Linked DNA regions of Homo sapiens: all the other regions are linked to region 1. A link means that fine-mapping ties the variant in region 1 to the plasma level of a protein whose gene starts in the linked region. Region 1 holds a variant in brackets. A gene starts in each other region. All regions are shown on their forward strands.

Region 1 (4,063 bases):
AAGGAGCTGAAAGATAATTCAAGAGAAGGGTATGAAACTGAAGAATGCCTTGTCATCAAAGGGCAGGAAGTACCTTAGCTGGGTTATCCCAGTCTGGCACCTGGTCCTCAGTCTTCAAGTTCAGAAACTCAGGTCATCATTTCCTAGGAACTGGGTGGATTCTGGGAGATTGCCTCACACCAACCAAACTCACAAGAGATTCAGTAATAAGCCAGAGTGCCATTTTTTTTCCTTCACAATGGAAAATGAACCTGATACTGCAGTTTATCTTAACAGAGCACACCTACACTATGGGGAAGTCTACTTAAGAGACCAAATGATAGATCAGAGGGTTGTCTGGTAAACTTAGATTCCCAAGTCAGCTGGAAACATACCTAGAGATAATCTCTTAGGGTAGAATAGTTGCCTGTGAGAAGTTTGCCCAAAGTACTGAAGCTTTATAGTTTGAATGAGTCATTTGCTAACCTGAGTCTCCAAACACCTTACTCTCGCCCTCACTTACAGAAATTAGAGATACAGGTATGGAAGTTAGTCCCACATGATAGTAAGATGCCAAAGAATCTGATATGGAGAGATGTCTGAAAGCAGAACTCTCAGAAACAAATTTAGTAAGAGGGGAGGAGGCAAAGTGTCCAAATAAGAAATATTCAAAGTGAAGGGAAAACCAAGGGTACAGTATCTCGAGAGCCAAAAGAAGGGTTAAGAAGAGATGGTCCACTATCAAATGTGACAGAAATAGATAACACTTTCCAAGTGGAAAATCACTTGTGACCTTTGAGAGTAGTTTAACAGAGCAACGAGAGTAGATGTCTGATTGCTAAATCATCTCTAACTCATTCTTCAGAGTTAAGTTTGCAACACAGCCGGACGCGGTAGCTCACGCCTGTAATCCTAGCACTTTGGGAGGCCAAGGCTGGCGGATTGCCTGAGCTCAGGAGTTCGAGACCAGCCTGGGCAACACGGTGAAACCCCGTCTCTACTAAAATACAAAAGAAATTAGCTGGGTGTGGCGGCGTGCGCCTGTAGTCCCCGCTACTCGGGAGGCTGAGGCAGAATTGCTTAAACCCGGGAGGCAAAGGTTGCAATAAGCCAAGATCACACCACTGCACTCCAGCCTGGGCAACAGCGCGAGACTCTGTCTCTACCAAAAAAAAAAAAAAAAAAAGTTTGCAACACAAAGCAATAAGGTTTGTGATAACATCTTAATCAATGAACTGGTCTTTATTGAACAAATACCCTGCAGTCTGCACCACAGGAGTCACCTTTTGTTTATGAGAGGCAGGAGACTACAGTGCAAAGAACACTGGCTGGGAAGTCCAGGGCCCAAGCAGCAGAGTGTTCACTGGTCCTTAACTTTCAGAAGAACTGCAGAGAGCCTCCTTTCTCTCTGGATGAATGTGTTTCAACATTTCTAACTGAGAGTAGGGCTAACTGATCAGGTACCCCCACTGGCTCTAACCTCACAGCTCTAGCATTTGCAGTTCCCTCTGCCAGGAAATCTCTTCCCCCAGATACCCACACAGCTCACTCCCTGACCTCCTCCTCAGCTTTGCCCAAATGTCAAATTATCACCTTCTTGTTCAGAAGATCTTCCCTACTCCCCATTTCCTTGCACAACCCAGCCCCATTCCCTGCTTTACATTCCTCCATGACACTAATCACCATCTGATGTACTGTTTTCCT[G/C]ATCTGTTTATTGTCATTTTTCCCCACTAGACTTCAAGTTCCATGAAAGAGATTTATTTTGTCCTCTGTTCTGTGGTGTGCTTGGCATAAAGTAGATAAGCAAGCATCTGCTGAAGGAATGAATTAAATGCCAGCTGCAATCCCCAAATTACAGTAGATACACGGGAAAATTTTCTTTAGGAGGCTGAATTCTAACAGCATGATATCAAACAAGGATAGGGTCAATACAGAGGCCAGTGCTGTTTGAAAGTCATCATTTCAATGGTAACTCCTTCACTTGTGCTGGACTCGGTCTCCCCTCAGGAGACTCCTTTCCTGTTCAAAGTCAGTATTTTATATACTCAAAACCAACAACAAACTCCAGGTGTAACTTTATTCCACCTTCTCCAACTTCAGAGTTCCAACCTTAGAGGATAGAGCATTATGTGGAAGGAGGGTGAGGACTTGATATGAAAAAAGTGATGACATACCCCTGGTTCATTTCTGGGTTTCCTCCTAGGCCAATTCAAAACTTCCAAAATAAGGTCAAGTAACACAATAGGCTCACACTTGCATCACAAGCTGTTTAGAAAGTGTGCACAGATCTCTGACTCAGACCAGATGTCCTCCCCACCATGGGCAAGGGCTGGTGGGAAAGACACTCCCAGCCTTCGCCTTCATCCAATACTAATAAATAACCTACAGAAAGAGCAGCGCTGGAGGCTGGCCCTTGAGCCACCCACTGCTACCGTTGCGGAGCCAGGCCTGCCTCATAGCCCTCTGTCTTCATGTCATTGAGCCCTAGCTCCTCATTTTGGTCAAAGGTGCGCTTGTAACGCTCCACCTTCATCTCAGGATCATCTTCAGGCGCATACACATTCTGCAAGGTCAAGGAGAGACAATCAGTGCCGCTGTGCCACTCCCCCTCTCTGCAGGCAGCTTCCAATTCCCACCTTCCCAAGAACAGAATGAGTTTTGGGTTTTTTTCTTTTTATTGGCCTCCAATTTCCCATGGCTAGACTGAACTAGTGGGTAGCAACAGAGCCCACATGGGCCAGGGGTAGAAGACCCCAGCCCCAGAATCAGGGAACAATCCACCTATTTTGTTATATCTGCACCTTCTTATGAAAAGTATGACAAATGGTCTTAATCTTGGAAAGAACTTAGAAGAGTTTTGCCTGACCCATGGTAAGTATCCAATAAATGGTAAAGGTACATCAATCACCAGACTCTCTCCTCAGTCAACTTAAAGCCTATCAGTTTCCTATCTTGGCCTCCGGACAAGGTACCATTTCTCCTCAATCCATAATCAGATTTGCAAAATGAAAACTCCAGAACTGGGACAAGAGCTTGACTACAGAAAAAAAAGGGGCCTCAGAGTATCCTTTTTTTTTCCTTCTTTACATACACTTAAAAAAAAAATCCCCTCCCACACCCCCCTCTTTTCTCCCTTATGTATCTTCTAACTTCTGCCTCCTTGGTAAAAAGCAGTCCATTTAGAATCAAGTCTTTCAGTTTCTAGGGAAATGATACATATTCAAGGAAGATCAGAAAATGTATCTCTATGAAACATCAGGGAAGGTCTACTATACCTGCAAGTAACTGTTTCCTGCTGGATCATCCATAATAAAGTGGGCCTTCATGTTACCTTCGATGATCTAAAGGAGAGAGAGAACACAGCAAGTAAATTTTACATAACCCCTGGTAAAAAGAGGCTATGTCGGGGGAGGGGGGAGGGATAGCATTAGGAGATATACCTAATGTAAATGACTAGTTAATGGGTACAGCACACCAACATGGCACATGTATACATATGTAACAAACCTGCACGTTGTGCACATGTACCCTAGAACTTAAGTATAATAAATATATATATAAATAAAAAAAGAAATGAAATAAATGAAAGTAAAGAAAAATTTTTAAAAAAAGAGGCTATGCCTGCCAGACAAGAACCAACCCAATTTATATTACAGAATCCCCAAAAGTTTTAAGAATTGGTGAAATTAGGTAGCTCTGAAAGTAGAGGGGAAAGGTTCTAAAATAAGGACTGTTAGAAAAGCCAACATCAGCAAGCTGTGGACTAGGGGGTGCTGGCCCAGTTGAAGGTAGAGGGAAAGGAATCAAGAACAAGTAGGTTAAATGAATGTAAGCTTATGGGAAACAGAATACATACACACCCCAGCCCCCTTCCCACAGCTCTCAGAACACTGCCAGCCAAGCCTTTACCCTCAGGCCAGGAAATGGAGCAGCCACAGTCATTTAACCTCCTTGTTCTTGAGTCCTTTCCCTCTACCTTCAACTGGGCCAGCACCCCCTGGTCCACAGCTTGCTGATGTTGGCTTTTCTAACAGTCCTTATTTTAGATCCTTTCCCCTCTACTTTCAGAGCTACCTAATTTCAC
Region 2 (5,814 bases), not on the chromosome of region 1:
TGCTACATATGGTTAGCCTGAATGGCACCTTATCCATCATGCCACCCCCCTCACTATCAGTCTGGCTTTCAATTAATAGTCCTTCACTTCCAAGCATTTACATTATACTGCATTTCAACCATCTTAAAGCAGCCTCAGGCTACAACTTGGCATACCAGCTGTCGGTTCAGATGTATTATTCATTTATATTTTAAATAGTGTAACTTGGTCTAGACTTTGTAATTATAAAGCGGCCAACAGATTTGAGGTATTTTAGGGTGCTTTGACCTGTTCTAAATTAAAGGGAAAAAATCATTTTAAAGACAAGCAATTTGCAACAAGAACTAATGCTTCTGGCAACGTGAACAATCACAACTAAAAAACTAAGAGATTACTATGTAAAAAAAAATTAGAGCTTGCTTCTAAAGTCATAAAAGTCCCCAGGTTGTTTTCTAATTGGACTTAGATGAGGACATGTCATTCACTGCTGGTGACACCATAGACTTGGTTATAGGATACACCTGATTGCTTGTCCCTGTGTCACAAGCAGATGCCCTGCGAAGCCATAGTATGTTAAGGATGTGATGATGCAGTGTCGACGGGGACTGGGACCAACATGAATGTGGGACAGAATGTCCCCACAGAGCAAGCGCTTCTATTTTCTGAATGGGAACGTCAAGTCCGTCTTTGTCATGGATCTCGGCTACTTTGAAACCCAATGGTGTTTCCTTTGAGAAGCGGGCATTTCAATCCAAGTTTGACTATGCTTATCCACAAATAATTTGAATGAATATTTTTAGCAAATGACATTTGGTTTGGAATAAGGATTTCACAAATATTATCATTTTTAAACTATCAATCTTTTCCTTAATATATTAGCTGTATTTACTATCTCTGGCACTAAAACATAGACACTGTAATACCTGCAGCAGTAACTTTTTTCTTTGAAATATTAAGTTTTTTGTACATTGAATGGATGATTAGACAAAGGAACATAATAGGAATGATATATTCACCTTTCTTCATTCATCAACATCAAATTACCAATTTGACATTTTGCTATGCTTCAGTTTAACCGGTTGGCAGACTTTGGAAACCTTGCCATATATTTAGGTAGTATCTACTGATTATAACTCTCAATTGTTATATCCGTGCTTGCAGGAATATTTAAATATTAAAGTAAGCACTTCTTTTAAAAATTATACCACTGTTGAAAAGTTTCTTGTAAAAGCTTTTAGTCTTTCACAAGACTGAAAAAAAAATTCATTCCACCCAAAGTCCTAAGCGTTTTGCAATATCTCCTATTATGTTCCATTGAGGAGGATTTAGAGCAGGAGGTATCCTGCCACTTCAGGAGCTGATGGAAGAAAGAACAACCATAAACCACATAAAGAAGTGAGCGTTCCGTATCTAATAATATTACCAACAATAAATGACTTCTTCTGAAGAAAGAACTGGCTTTAAAAATCTCACTTATTTGTTTGTGAAAGTCTATCGAATTGTGAAAAAAAAAAGAATAGAGTTAATTGTTTGAATACAATTGCTGAGAAAGTAGAGATTTATGTTATTTTAGTATTAAAATCTTATTCAATAAGAAAATAATTTCCAGTTAATTTCCCCCCTCTTTAGGTAGTCTAAAGAGAGCCTGCAGTTTTGTAAGAACTACAAATTTCCACTAAAATTTAAAGGAAAGTATGGTAACAATAATAAGTAGGAAGTCTTACAGAAAGATTAACCTTAGACCTAAAAAAGAAGACATTATGTTCTATCCCCAAATGTGTTGGCATTGTAGTCCATATAAATCCTTTTTCAAACTGGTTAGCTCATTTTATGTAATAGGTCTTCAGTATGTATGGAAAAATACACCACTTAATCATTTACTCCATCAAAGATCTTTGTAAATTTGTTTTTTGTCTCTAGGAGCCTAATCTAAAAAGACAAATTAAAATTTTATTGCAGAGGGTAGCTATTTTAGATTTTATTACTATTTATCCTCAATACATAGTAAATAGTTATTAATGTATGGCTTCACTCAGATGCATCCAAAGAAAACCCCCCAAATAGATGACACTTGTTCTCTGCACCAAGTACGCTATGTTTTATTTACAAAGAGTTGCTTTAATGGACTTTGATTTTTTGATAGATGTCTGAAATTTGAATATTTGAAAGATGTTATTTAATTTGCTCTTTTGGAAAACCAGAGATTTTAATTGGTAAAAAGCAATTTCTGTTATAGGCTCCCTAATGGACACATTTCTGCTTACTTTAAAAGACGCCTTCTGTTCAAAGTAGTATACAGATCTATCAAGTCCAAGAAAAATATTTATTCTTCAAAATGTTACCAATTATTTTAAAATACAACTCTCATAACAGTTAAGTATTATAACAAGTGCATTGATTTGAATCTTTGTTTTTTTTCTGTTTTATATTTTTGCATATAATTATTTTTCCAACTCGCTTTGCGGCTTCGCTATATTAAAGTACACGTAAATGCATTTGATATAACCTTTTCCATCTCAGTTCCTCTCTGTGTACTATTAGTAATAAAGTCTAAGATGAAAGAACAACATTTTAATTTATAATATTTTGATCCCTTAAAAATACTTCACTGTCCGCCAAACAGGATTTACAATTTTATAATCATCTTACCTTCTGGTAGTGTGCTGTAGAACAGAGCAGGTGAAGAGAGAGCAAGCCCTCTTTGGGAACTTTTGATGTGCTCTGTGTCCTAAGCTCTGTACTTCTGCACCAAGGCGCACTGCTTTTATATACTCTCCAGCTCTGTTTAGCCTCACAGATATTACGCTGACAATATAAATTTCTCATCTGTAAATAATGAGTTTTTGTTACAAATGACTTCCCTCTCCCACTCACTTTGCTCATCTGCATTCTATGCTTATATTGGGTGAGAGACCTTAGAGACCTGGAAACTTTTTATGCACTCTTGTATCTTTTTTTTTTTTTTTTGGTTGGGAATGGAGAGAGCAGCTTGGAAATCCACCTTCTACTTTCAATCACGCATGAAAATCACTTAAGTTCTCTAAAGTGAATTTTGACGTTGAAGACAAAAGACCTTGAAATTACGTAGCCCATGGCCATCCCTGTTTTGTGCATGTCCTCATTTGAGGTTCTTACAAGTCTTTGGTTTGCTACCTAGCCATGATGAATTTACCTGAATATAACAATCACTTCAGTCATTCATTTATCTAAATAATGATCATTCATTCAACACATATGTATTAAAAATCCTCTCTTCCTCACAACGTGGAGTTTATTTATGTTATGTTTGTGGAAAATTTAAGGATATTGATTAAACCCCTATGTGTTCTGTTTTAATAAATGGAATTCAGGCAGAAAGGATGGAGCAAAATGAAGATTAAACATCCAAGATAGCTGATGCTAACAGGAAATTATCTGGTATTTTTTTCCTTCTAATATATATTTAAAATCTAATTTTACTGATAAGAGAGTGGGGTACTAAGTTACAAAAGAATGAGATATGAGGAAAACTGTTGAGATGAGATGCATATTTTCACGTTTCCTGAGTTTTGTGACTGGACACACAGGCTTTAATGATCTGTGACATTTAGCAGAAATGATTCTGGTCACTGTAGAGAAATAGAAAAATGGTAAATAATCTGGAAAGACAGCATAAGAAGTAGTGTTGGCATAATTTGATTTTAGTTTTGCTGTTATTGACCAGCTGTGTGACCTTGGTCAAGTCACGCATTCTCTTTGTGTCTCTGCCTCCTTATTTGTAAAATGAGAGGGGTTGGTAAATGTCTTTTCTAAAATAAAAATTTTATTCCATATTGCAAACTCATCACAACATTTCCTAACTAGATTCCAATATTCTAATATAACCAACCGCATGATGTCACTGATGACTTGTATGGAGGTAAATCATTGAGGCAACTGGAGAAATATTCCAAATGAACTTAACTGTTCAATTTGTGCATGAGACCAACGTTTGAATGTAGAGCTACTTGAAGGCCACAGAGATCACTTTCAAGTCAGACTGGAAGACATCATTGAGGGGTTTTTGTGCTGGTGATTATTGGGTGCTAGAAAGCCTTGCTTTGCAAAGTGTGGTCTAAGGACCAGCATCATCTGGGAGCTTGCTAGAAATGCAGAATCTCGTGCCTATCAGAATCTGTATTTTAACAAAATCCTAAGGAAATCTGTGTTCATATTAAAATTTGAGAAGCACAGCTGCATAAAATATCTGCCTCACTTTATCTCCTCATTGGTACTGCTGGTGTCTTGATCTGAGACCTGCTTCTTGGCACTCTACCAGCAGAGGGGGTGAAAGAGCAGAGAAAGGTGTCAAGCCTTAGGTCGGTCTAGAGAGTAATACTTATAAATACGGTAATAGCTTGAAAGAGTGGATTGATTTAATGTATGATTACATTGTCTTTCTCTCTGGCTACAATCTTCACACAACTATTCGCTATATTTTTAATCGTTTTGGCAGATTCAGTTCTACTTTTCCCATTGTCTATTTGTCTATTTGAGCAGATGTTTCTTTCTGTCTCTCTGTCTCTGTCTCTCTCTTTCCTTTTCAGACTCTACTTGTTTGTGGAGCAGCCCTAAGAAGGAAGATCTGCAGATCATATATATAAAATCTTCAACATAGCACTGGCCTTTCAGTAATTATCCTCTCCCAATATTTAACTACCAAACATTTTTCTTTCCCTCCACTCTACTTGCTTCCATTATTCTAGAAGTGACTATCCCAAGTTGTTTCAGAAAATTTCCTGTGACTTTATCTCCAGCCCACTGACACTGATTCTTGGGGCTCCCAGTACCATAAGGGTAAGCATTCTCAGGATGTATAAGCAATAAGAACCCCACTGCATTGTGTGCTGCTCTCCTCTCTAGGAGGGGCAAGTCAGGCTTCTTCATGGACACCGAATTGTCAGAAATTAAGACAGAACTCAAGTGCAATTTGGACTTGCAGATCTTCTTCCTATCACTGTTCTGGCATGAGCCTCTACTTGGCCTATTCCCATCAATACAGTTATTCAGTGATTTAGATGTGAGGCAAGGAAAGTGGTAGCCCTGTATGTCTATGACTAGTGACATATATGATTTCTTTATGATGTTTAGTCCTAAGGACAATTTCCACAGATTTACAACCTGTGCAGCTGCATGAAGCTGCATGCAGGACCTCATGCTTGCCTTAATGCTTTTACCACCTCAAAATTCTTAAAAATTTACACAAAACCATGCATTGTGGGGTTATTGTGTGTTTATTTTCTGTAGCTGCTCGGAATACTTAGGAATAGTTGAGAATGGCAAAGATCCAGGTTCACAGTGCGCTGCGATGGGAAGTCTATGGGTAGGGAGAACTCTCAGGCGTTGCTGATGGGAGTACAAAATATTAACTCCTTTGAAAGGTGGTTTGGTAATACTTATCGAAGTGACTAATACCTATAGTTCTTGGTCCAGTAAGGCTAAAGCACTATTCTGAACATTTATCCCACATATATTGCTATGTAGATATGTAATGATGTAGGTACAAGGTTGAGTAGAAGAGTAACAGGTGGGAACTAATCCAAGGGGCCAGCAATAGAGCACTGTTTAGAAAAAAAAAAAAAATGAAGACGCTGTCTATTTACCAGTAGGGAAAGACTCCAAGTTATGTTGTTAGTTGAAAACAAGAAAGTGCAGAATGGGTATGTAGTAGGCTACCTTTTGTTTTAGAAGGGAGAGGGGCAGAAATACGTGTTTATTTTTCATAATTGCGTCAAAAAATTAAAATAGACAAGAAGCTGATGAAAGTGCTTACCTGTAGGAGGCAGTGTGGATAAGTGGGGTGCATGTGGACAGGGA
Region 3 (5,814 bases), not on the chromosome of region 1:
TCACCTCGGAGGCTTGGGCGCGGACCGGCCGACCCCCTCAGGGACTCGCCCATCCAGGTGGCCGCAGCCCGAGTTCGCACGCACCCCTACCCACGCCGCCACCACCCTGCACCCGGCCCCAAGAGGCGTCTCTCCAACACGCACACTAGCCCCGGACTCACCTGCGAAGGAGATAAGGGAAATTCCTAGGCCGAGTGTCGGGACAGGGGCGGAGGCGGGGGTCTTAAAGAAGCGGTGACGTCACTGGACCACCGCCCCGGAGGAGGGGCAGAGACCCTGTCCCTGACGGCAGCGGGCGTGCGAATCCCAGGCTTGTCAGAGGGGGGCGCTGGAGGCTGGGGTCGCTGGGCCCGCCTCGGGCTGGCAGACGTCCAGACTCACCCAGGGTGAGGGCGCCAGGCTTAGGGTAGAACAGAGCTTGAGACTCCGCTTCACCACTTAAGCAGCGCGGTGACATGGGGAACTCACCTAACCTTCCCGAGCCTTCGTTTCCTACTCTGCAAAATGGAGATAACAAGTCTGCATTTTATTATGTAACTACGTCCTAAGGTACAAATTAAAGGGCATACTATTGGTATTATTTTAGAGAAATATTTTCACTGTGTCACCCAGGCTGGAGTGCAGTGGTGCGATCACGGCTCACTGCAGTCTCGACCTTCTGGGCTCAAGCGATCCTCCCGCCTCAGCCTCCTGAGTAGCTGGGACTACAGGCAGCACACGCCACCGTGCCCAGCTAATTTATGTTTTGTTTTGTATAGACAGGGTCTTGTTATATTGCCCAGGCGTCTCGAACTCCCGGACTCAAGCGATCCGCCCGCCTTGGCCTCGCACTGCGCTGGGATTACCGGCTTAAGCCACCGCGCCCGGCCAGATAATATTATTTTTATGTTGCTGGTTTTTTGTTGTTGTTGTTGTTTGTTTTTGAGATGGAGTCTCGCTCTCTCGCCAAGGCTGGAGTGTGGTGGCGCGATCTTGGCTCACTGCAAGCTCTGCCTTCCGGGTTCACGCCATTCACCTGCCTCAGCCTCCAGAGTAGCTGGGACTACTACAGGTGCCCGCCACCACCCCCGACTAATTTTTTTGTATTTTTAGTAGAGACGGGGTTTCACCGTGTTAGCCAGGATGGCCTCGATTTCCTGACCTCGTGATCTGCCCGCCTCGGCCTCCCAATGTGCTGGGATTACAGGCGTGAGCCACCGCGCCCGGCCTGTTTTGTTTTTTGAGATGGAGGCCCTCTCTGTCGCCCAGTCTGGAGTGCAATGGCGCTATCTCGACTGACTGCAACCTCCGTCTCCCAGGTTCCAGAAATTCTCCTGCCTCAGTCTCCCGAGTAGCTGAGATTACAGGCGCCCACTACCACGCCCGGCTAACTTCTTTCTTTTTTTTATTTTTAGTAAAGACGGGGGTTCACCAAGTTGGCCAGGCTGGTCTCGAGCTCCTGACCTCAGGTTTAATTGTTATACCCCCCGGGCCCTTAACAAAGCTGTAGTGGCCAGGCTAACCTGGGCAACATAGTAAGACCCTGGTCTCTACAAAAAATACAAAAATTAGCCGGACGTGGTGGGGCAGGGCCTGTGGTCCCAGCTACTTGGGAGGCTGAGGTGGGAGGCTCACCTGAGCCCAGAGAGCCGTGATCGTACCACTGCACTCCAGGCTGAGCAAGAGTGAGACGCAATCTCAAGGGGAGGTGGGGGGAAGGAAGCTGCAGTGATCTCTGCATGGATTGGTCGTGTGTCTGATTTCTTTTTATTGTTTGTTTGTTTGTTTATTTATTTATTTATTTATTTATTTATTTATTTGAGACGGACTCTCACTCTGTCGCCCAGGCTGGAGTGTAGTGGCGCGATCTCGGCTCACTGCAACTTCTGCCTCCCGGGTTCAAGAGATTCTCCTGCCTCAGCCTCCTGAGTAGCTCGGATTGCAGGCGCGCGCCACCACGCCCGGCTAATTTTTGTATTTCGAGTAGAGACGGCGTTTCACCACGTTGGTCAGGCTGCTCTCGAACTCCTGACCTCGTAATCCGCCTGCCTCAGACTCCCAAACTGATGGGATTAAAGGCGTGAGCCACCGCGTCCGGCCGTTCGTGTCTGATTTCTATATGTGCTGCCGAAGCGAGCACTCGTGTCTAATTTTTGATTTCCCCACACCACGCACGCTGGACTAGATCACCGGCTGGGCAAGGAAGGGGGTCTGCGTCCCTGCGGGGTCCTGGCAGCTCCCGCGCCAGGACTTTGTTGAATGAATGACTGAACTGAGCGGGCGCCGCGGGGCGGGGCGTCCCGAAGCGGACCTCAAGGCGGGCGGAGGCGAGAGCTCCGCCCCGGAAGGCGGGGGCGGGGGCGGGGCGGCGGCCGTGGGTCCCTGCCGGCCGGCGGCGGGCGCAGACAGCGGCGGGCGCAGGACGTGCACTATGGCTCGGGGCTCGCTGCGCCGGTTGCTGCGGCTCCTCGTGCTGGGGCTCTGGCTGGCGTTGCTGCGCTCCGTGGCCGGGGAGCAAGCGCCAGGTACGCGGGACTCCGGGGTCGGGGAACCCCGGGCCGGGGCTCGGGAGCCGGACTGGGTGTCTGGAGAACAGCGCCGAACTGGGGGAACAGGCGGATGTGGGGATCTGGGGTCAGGTGGCCTTCAAACAGCTCGCTCCCGGCTGTGGGAAGTTCCATCACTCTCCAAGCTTCATTCACAATCCGGGCCTCAGTTTCTCCCACCGTCCAATTGGGGTTGGGGGGGGTCTTCAGTTCCACAAGTCCGAAGTACTTCGAATGGAGAGAGAAAGTGAGTGAGGGCGGGATGTTTAGTCTAGGAAGGGGCACGCCCCCAGCCTGGTCCGTACAGGGTCTAACTAGCCCCAGTGATCGACGAGTTGGGGAGGCCGTCGAGAGGCACTAGGGTCTGTGCCCTCTATACCATGTGGGGTGCCCCCTTCCATCCGGTGACTTCAGTGCCCAGCTATGCGGGGGGAGGGACTGGGGTCGGGCCCGGTGCCCAGGAGTGAGTCACCCGCCGGCGGCAGGGGGGTTGTGGGGACCTGACCCCCCCCACCCCCAGCGTCCCGCGCTACGCCCTCCCTCCCGGAGCTGCCGTGTCCCGGTCGGGCCGTGCGGTCACCTGTGAGGAATGCGCGGGGAGGGCGCCGGTGACTCACGTTATTCGAGCCGGCCGACCCTGACCTCAGACCCCAGAATAGCCGAGTCCCGCCCCCAGCCTCTGACCCGAGGCCCCCTCCCCAGGCACCGCCCCCTGCTCCCGCGGCAGCTCCTGGAGCGCGGACCTGGACAAGTGCATGGACTGCGCGTCTTGCAGGGCGCGACCGCACAGCGACTTCTGCCTGGGCTGTGAGTGGGGGGCAGGGCCAGTGGCCAGCGGACCCCAGACTGGGAGGGAGGGTGGCTGGTGCGCAGAGCGGGGCCGAGAGCTTTGCATCTGGGAAATCATTCGGGAGGAGGTGGGAGCTGGGAGGGGGCTCCGGTCAGGGAGGAGGCCACGTTTGGGAGAAGGCAGAAGGCTCAGTCTTAGGGGGCGGGGCTGGCCTGGAGAGGGGCGAGGTCTGACTCCGAGTCCCGCCCCCAGGCGCTGCAGCACCTCCTGCCCCCTTCCGGCTGCTTTGGCCCATCCTTGGGGGCGCTCTGAGCCTGACCTTCGTGCTGGGGCTGCTTTCTGGCTTTTTGGTCTGGAGACGATGCCGCAGGAGAGAGAAGTTCACCAGTAAGTGTGCCCTGGCCTGCCCAGCCCTGTCAGCACTCGACCTTTTCTCTGCTGCTGACGACCCCACCTCTTATCTTGCAGCCCCCATAGAGGAGACCGGCGGAGAGGGCTGCCCAGCTGTGGCGCTGATCCAGTGACAATGTGCCCCCTGCCAGCCGGGGCTCGCCCACTCATCATTCATTCATCCATTCTAGAGCCAGTCTCTGCCTCCCAGACGCGGCGGGAGCCAAGCTCCTCCAACCACAAGGGGGGTGGGGGGCGGTGAATCACCTCTGAGGCCTGGGCCCAGGGTTCAGGGGAACCTTCCAAGGTGTCTGGTTGCCCTGCCTCTGGCTCCAGAACAGAAAGGGAGCCTCACGCTGGCTCACACAAAACAGCTGACACTGACTAAGGAACTGCAGCATTTGCACAGGGGAGGGGGGTGCCCTCCTTCCTAGAGGCCCTGGGGGCCAGGCTGACTTGGGGGGCAGACTTGACACTAGGCCCCACTCACTCAGATGTCCTGAAATTCCACCACGGGGGTCACCCTGGGGGGTTAGGGACCTATTTTTAACACTAGGGGGCTGGCCCACTAGGAGGGCTGGCCCTAAGATACAGACCCCCCCAACTCCCCAAAGCGGGGAGGAGATATTTATTTTGGGGAGAGTTTGGAGGGGAGGGAGAATTTATTAATAAAAGAATCTTTAACTTTAAATGGTTTGGAGAGGCAGTGATCCCCGACTGACTCCCCTGAGCTGGAGGGAGGGAGTGAGTCAGCCAGCCGCGGGGGCGGGGGTGAGGCTCTGACTCACACATTCTCAATGCCTGGAACTCAGCCGGCAAGGACCTGGCTGGCCCTAACAGTTTTCCAGGGAAGATCTTGAGGAGAAACCCCAGCATCCCGCGCCTCTGCCCTCTCCACCATCCCCAAAAGCCCCAGGTTCCAGACTGAAGCCTTCCTTTGCTCAGCAATCTTTATTCAGTTCTTCTTGGGGGTGGGATGCCTCCCTTCCCATGCTCCCACCCCTCCCATCCCAGAACTCCGTTGGGCTCAGTGTCCTCTGTTGAGGGAAGGTCTTGGTGCCCAGATGCCTACTCTGCAGGAGAGGGAGGAACCTTGTCCCTTTGCGGGAGTCGCTGGTCTCTTCTGTTGTGGGGAAGAAGGAAGGTGGGAGGGGCACTGTCCACCAGCACTCAGAGCTCCATTATGTCCCCAGCTGGGGTTGCAGGGTAGGGGGGACTGGGGGTGTCCCCCAGCCTCAGCAGACGGAGGGCCTCAGGGATGAGGCTGCCAGGATAGCGCCAGAGAAGCAGCTCAGAGCAAGGGCTCCTAGAAGAGGAAATGACTGTCAGGGCATGGAGCTGAGGCTGGCCTAGCTGAGCACCTCCCACCAGGTCCAGGTCCCCAGGGGCTCCTGGGTTCCCAGCACTTTCCAAAGAGCCAAGATGGGAAACAACCCAGAGGTCAGCTAGAGCTAAAAATGGCACGATGAGGCAGGGCCTGAGGTCAGCTGTGAGGACCGCCTGTGATTCTGCAGAAGGCCTGGCCAGTGGAGGAACCTACCTGAGTGGGGGCAGGGCTGGGGAGAAGGTCATGGGGGGGCTGCAGTAGGGGTGGTCATTGTGCAGGCTGAGTTGAGAGAAGTGGGTGGCCATGTTCTCCTCAGACAGAAACTGCTTGCGCAGAGGCTCCCTGGGGAGAGATGGCAGAGAGGCAGGCTGGGATACTGACACAGGAGGCAGCCTGTTGGGGACCAGAGGTGACAGAGATCTTGTTGGGAGTCCCTCCCTGCCCCCAAACTCACTGCTCCTCCTCCAGGCGCCGCTTGGTGCTCATGGGCACAGCTCCTCGGAGAGGGGAGCTGGGAAAAAAAGAGAGCCTGGTGCACCCCACCCTCTTGGCCCCTTCCCAAGGATCTGCCCGCCTAAGCCTGCAGCATCAGCCAGGAGCCCCAAGCCCATTCCTGTCTCAGCTGGTGCCGGTCCCCGCTCTCCTGGACCATCCAGCAGGGTACCTCGGAAGTCTCGACCCTCAGCCGCAGCCCCAGTCCCATCTCAGCTCACGCCTAAGCCCCGCCGATTCGCCCCACCCCGTATTCATCCTGCAGACCAGTCCTGAGCACCCAGCCAAAG
Region 4 (4,778 bases), not on the chromosome of region 1:
CTGTCAAGAATTGCATGCCACCTACTCACTCTTGTAGGATGTTATCACTTCTCTATGTTGCCACTCTTTATCATCTGAGAAATCAATGATCACTATGAATTTCCATTGGTTAAGAAAACAATTTTAGTTCTAATCATGGGTAAGTACACCTTTATCAAATAGTATGTCATCTACAAAGAAACAGTCATATTTTAACCAATCAACTTGCTCCTCCCCAAAGTAATGCATTTGTTTATTTTTATTAAAAATACTGAGACAAAGATACATCGGTTTAGTATTAGAATTCAAACTAGGGCTAGCTAAGAATAAAAACTACCTATCAAGTCACTATGAAATAGTAAAGAAATCAATATTTCTCTAAATTCAGTGCAATTCAACAGCCACTTTATTGAATACTATATGTGTTATGCTAGGTGTTGGGAGAGAAAGGATTAAAACACTTGGTTTATGGAGCTAATAATAATCCAGTGGATGTAGAAAACAGTAGGGTAGCTAACAGATATAGACAGTATAATGGTAAAGAAGAAAAATCATTAACTGGATAGACAATCTAGGCAGACCAAACAGCACGTGCAAAAGCAGAGTTGCTTAGTAACACAGTATATTCACAGAACTCCAGTGTTAATTATGAAAACAAATTGCAGACCAACAACGTTTCACTGGCACATCTGATTTTTTTGTTTGAGAAAGAGCACCCTAGCTTCTGGGAGCTCATGTGGTACTACCAGCTAGGCTTTGGTGTTGCTAGGAGCAGACCTGGCACTCATAGCCACGCCCTAATGTTCTCCTGTTGAACACAATTTCACAAAAGTTCAACCTCAAATAAGGCCACTCTGTAATCATGTCTGAACAAGGACAAAAAAATAAAAATGTCAAACCACAAAATGACCAAGTATCTCCATCCTGGCTAAATGAATGACTGTTCCTTCTCTGCAGCTTTAACCTCATTCTAGTCTCTCATTTAAGACTTAGTAAGATACCCAATCACAGAATTACCCCAGCTTCCCGAACACATCCAATCCACAGTAAAGCTCTGCTTCCCTTACCTTCCCCTAAGACCACCTGACACGAGCCCAAATCCTTCCTAACTCTTATTCAAACGGCCCATGGTTCCCATGAATTCCAGTGCGTTTTCCCTCACTGCAATGAGGGATAAACCCAACCTGTCAAATCACAGGTGTATTCCTGATGGATTTTGGCTGGAGGGCAGTGACAAATTTTACTTTTCATGGTGAAATTAATCCCTAAAAATATCAACCAAAAGGGTTGAATTCAAGACTTTAAAATTTCCTTTTCCTCCTTTATATGAAGCGTTTTAAAGATCTGCTTGTGGGCATACCATAGCAACGTAATTATATTTTCGGATAACTTGACGAATTTTCTTCATCTCTTCATCCAAGTTGCAAGCCCAAACTTCACAAATTCTTTGGCTATGATCTACAGTTGCCGCTGGCATAGTGAGGGCACAAGGGAGTCTAGATGCCAAGCATCAAAATGTTATACTTGATTGAAGATTTGTTTCATAAAATATTTTATCCTTTATTTATGTACCTGTCAAAATAAAAAAACAATATGAAGACCAGATATATCAAATCTGAATCACAGAATAATTGATCCAGCAGGAACCTAAGAAGTTATTTATTCAAAGTTCTTGACTCATAAAAAAAAAAAATCAAAGTTTAGAAAGTAACTTAAGGTCACACAGCTAGTCTATAGGAAAAAAAGGACTACAGTACAGATTTCCTGGTCCTAATTTCAGTTATTTTAAAATAGCTTTTTTACACATACATACTAATCATATTTTATAACTTTCCACTAATTATTTATCTGAGTTCAACTACTCTGCATAAAACTTTATAAAGCCATCCATTTCCAGACAAAAAATGAAAAATTACTTATTTACATGTGACAAGATCAGATGTTACCATGGCAAAGATGGTGTTTATTTTTATTCCTCATTAATAAAACAACCAAAATCCGACTTGATAACAAGATCTACTTTACCGGCGTTTATTCTAACTAGACTAGAGGGGTCAAAAATGTTTGTAAATGCTCTGAGAAAAAAGTAACGGCCATGAAAATTATCTGAATGTTCGCAGTTGCAGAACGGAAAAAGAACACAATAGAACGTCTAAAACTTAGAGCATATTGCATGGTTACCAAAGATAGATGTCACATTTCTGGTCTATAAACAGAGTTCCTGTTGATTCTTGGGCAGGGAAATTTCAAATCCTTCTGCATTTTTCATACAAATTGGAAAAAAAAAAAACAAGAGTAAAAAGAGGGTCTTATGACTGTCTTCTAAACTCTGAAGAGTCACAAATGTAACTTCCAATTCTCCAAGTAGAGAAACTAAAGGAGATCCAGGACACCCCTCCTTTATAACTCTCCCACCCCGATAGGCACACACACACACATAAGCACAAAAACACAAAGACTTGGAAAGACCCTGTAGTCTAACATTGTTTTCCTCCACCTCTCTCTCTACTGCAGTCCCAGAAGCCCCGAAGAGACACCAAAGGCCTTCTCATTACTGGAGAAAGCATCTCCGTACTGCAGTTTCCCAGAGAAACGAGAGGACGGCACCGAGGTATTCAAGCCATAGATAACTCTCTTCCCTGGCAAAGCGCCAGTGCGAAGGTGCTGATAACACTGACTGGAGCTACACTGACTCCCAAGCACTGCCGCGTGAAACAATACGAAGAGGTGAGGATCTAGGCCACCGCCCTCCACTCCCAATTTCCGTCCCACTGCGAAGCCCCAGGTACAAAGCCTTTGCGTCATCACTACGCGCCAACCCCTTGACAAACCCCCAGCCCCAGTTACCCAGCCCCCAACCCGCCGCCAGGCTCCTTCCTCCGCCAGCCGCACTCCAGCTGGCGCCATCGCGCACCCTCTCAGGTTCATCGTCCCCGCCCCCTTTCTACTTCCCTAACCCGCCCCTCCCCCCGTAAGGCTGCAGCGGATGCAAGATCTACTTGTGTCGCTGAGCTCGCGCTCCTCCTCCTCCTCCTCGCCATAGAGACAGCACTCGGCGGCGGTGGCGGTGGCGGTGGCGGTAGCGGCGGCGGCAGCGGGTGCCCCATAGACACCTCTCGCCCAGCGAAGGGAAAGGCGAGCAGGAGCTGCGCCGCACCGTGCTGCGCCGTCGCTTTTCGCACGTCCTGACGGGGGCGCTAGATGATGACGCGACACGCAGAGGGGGCGGAGAGCGCCCCCGGGGGCGGGGCACGCAAGTGACGGCGGCGCGGGTGGTGGAGCGCTGGGCGGCCAGGCTCCCTGGCTGGCCGGTTTGGGCGTCTGGGCCGTGAAGGTGGGACCTCCTGTTCCGGGCCGCAAGTTTCCCTCTCCAGCCGCCCGCCGTTCGTAGCATGTCCCCCAGAACTCGGGGAGCGCAGGCAGGACAGGCTTAGAGAAGACGCGGTCCCCAGCGCTTGGGCCACGGACGTCCCACCCCGCTCCTCTGTCGCTGGAGAACCGCCGGGCCGAGCCACTGGGAGAAGCAGGCCAGAGCCTTCCAGGGCCTCCGGCCCGTGGACCCGAGGAGGATGAGCTGGCTTTTTCCCCTGACCAAGAGCGCCTCCTCCTCCGCGGCTGGGTCCCCCGGTGGCCTCACCAGCCTCCAGCAGCAGAAGCAGCGCCTGATCGAGTCCCTCCGGAACTCACACTCCAGGTGACTGGTCGCTGCCTCTCCACCGGAGGAAAAAGTAGGGTGGGAGGGCGGGCTTGTCCTAACCACCCTCACAGCGCCTCAGTCTGCTCCCCACCAGCTCCTCATGTGGTTTACCTCCCTTGGTTGTGGGTCACACGCTTGCTCTGCCACTCCTGCCCCCTTTTACTGTTTTCCTCCGGACCCTCCCTGCCTCCTGCCGCACCACTGCTCAGCGCTTCTAACTCGGATTTCCTCATCCCTCCTGACACATAGCTGCTGACTGTAATCTCTCAATCTCTCTCATAGTCTATTTCCAGTATCCCTTGCTGCCCAGGCTTCGCCACTGATCTTTCCCTTTGCCCACCTGATTGCCGCGTCAGCAGAATTGTTAAAATACAATTGTGAAGAGTAATCTCCAGGTTTCACAAAGAATGGAAAATAGAACTGTTGCAACATCAAAGGAAAGGGAAGCCAGAGTTTTCATCAGTGAATGCTTCTCGTCTGAGAGTCACTTATCACGTAGTCAGTCTTCTTGAGTCTCTAAGATTTACCCTGTTGGAGCAGTCTCTCCCCATCTCACAGCGACCAGTGCATGTACATTTCTCACTTCTTTCATAGTCTTGTCCCCACGCTCAAGAATTACTTTATGTTCATCTTGATTGTTCTGTTGTCTTCCTGTGAGTTTTTCATTTTATCATGGTCAGTTTAGAAATATTTTTACAATTCATATTATTTCAACTTTTACTGTAAATTGGTTTGCTGCAGCCTTTTACATTGCAAATGTCTATGGTCTCTAATGGTTTTCAAAAATTAGAACTGCTTCTTTATATTTTATGCATTTTGCAAGTATATTTACTTAACAGTTTCACACTATTTTAAATAAAGATGACAACATTGTTAAGTCCCTAACCCCTTTTTTTTTTTTTTTTTTTGCCGGGGGTACGGCTCTCCTGTTGCCCAGGCTGGAGCGCAGTGGCGCGATCTCGGTTCACTGCAACCTCCGTCTCCCGGATTCAAGCAATCATCCTCCCTCAGCTCCCCACACCCCTCCGAGTAGCTGGGATTACAGGTGCGCGCCACCATGCGCGGCTAATATTTTGTATTTTTAGTAGAGACGGGGTTTCAC

Direction of the effects. Alleles are on the strand shown, and positions count from the first base shown. The strength of an association depends on the size of the effect and on how common the allele is.
For the plasma level of the protein whose gene starts at base 2,718 in region 2, G is the high allele of the variant in region 1 and C is the other (weak association).
For the plasma level of the protein whose gene starts at base 2,381 in region 3, C is the low allele of the variant in region 1 and G is the other (weak association).
With allele G in place of C in region 1, the plasma level of the protein whose gene starts at base 3,262 in region 4 is higher (weak association).

The links. PIP is the chance, under the fine-mapping model, that this variant and not a neighbour inherited with it causes the effect. The UK Biobank Pharma Proteomics Project read protein levels with antibody pairs (Olink). The fine-mapping took linkage between variants from a reference panel, not from the people measured, so its PIPs are less certain.
Region 2: GCG starts here. The variant in region 1 is fine-mapped to the plasma level of the GCG protein (UK Biobank, PIP 0.95).
Region 3: it holds the start of TNFRSF12A, and the variant in region 1 is fine-mapped to the plasma level of the TNFRSF12A protein (UK Biobank, PIP 0.98).
Region 4: it holds the start of VPS37A, and the variant in region 1 is fine-mapped to the plasma level of the VPS37A protein (UK Biobank, PIP 0.98).

What each region holds. Positions count from the first base shown.
Region 1 is chr11:116,776,518-116,780,580 of GRCh38, forward strand. ZPR1 (ZPR1 zinc finger) reads right to left here. Exons shown (of 14, transcript NM_003904.5): 13 at 3,255-3,320; 14 at 1-2,542. The coding sequence ends at 2,408. Among named protein-coding and RNA genes, the nearest start is that of BUD13-DT, 5.1 kb to the left of the region's middle. The variant G/C (reference allele first, on the strand shown) is at 1,684.
Region 2 is chr2:162,149,530-162,155,343 of GRCh38, forward strand. GCG (glucagon) reads right to left here and starts at 2,718. Exons shown (of 6, transcript NM_002054.5): 1 at 2,629-2,718. All of the region lies in intron 1 of LOC101929532 (a long non-coding RNA gene), which reads left to right. RefSeq lists a promoter at 2,606-4,327.
Region 3 is chr16:3,017,988-3,023,801 of GRCh38, forward strand. It overlaps TNFRSF12A (TNF receptor superfamily member 12A), which reads left to right and starts at 2,381. Exons shown (of 4, transcript NM_016639.3): 1 at 2,381-2,504; 2 at 3,228-3,332; 3 at 3,568-3,702; 4 at 3,784-4,396. The coding sequence starts at 2,411. The coding sequence ends at 3,839. It overlaps HCFC1R1 (host cell factor C1 regulator 1), which reads right to left. Exons shown (of 4, transcript NM_017885.4): 2 at 5,487-5,543; 3 at 5,246-5,374; 4 at 4,638-5,011. The coding sequence ends at 4,876. CLDN6 (claudin 6) reads right to left here and starts at 196. Exons shown (of 2, transcript NM_021195.5): 1 at 162-196. RefSeq lists enhancers at 1-197, 795-1,390, 2,159-2,803, 2,710-3,909, 3,449-4,092 and 2 more and silencers at 2,230-2,449, 3,300-3,469, 5,791-5,814.
Region 4 is chr8:17,243,697-17,248,474 of GRCh38, forward strand. VPS37A (VPS37A subunit of ESCRT-I) reads left to right here and starts at 3,262. Exons shown (of 12, transcript NM_152415.3): 1 at 3,262-3,673. The coding sequence starts at 3,549. It overlaps CNOT7 (CCR4-NOT transcription complex subunit 7), which reads right to left and starts at 3,161. Exons shown (of 7, transcript NM_013354.7): 1 at 2,979-3,161; 2 at 1,340-1,551. The coding sequence starts at 1,456. RefSeq lists an enhancer at 2,910-3,758.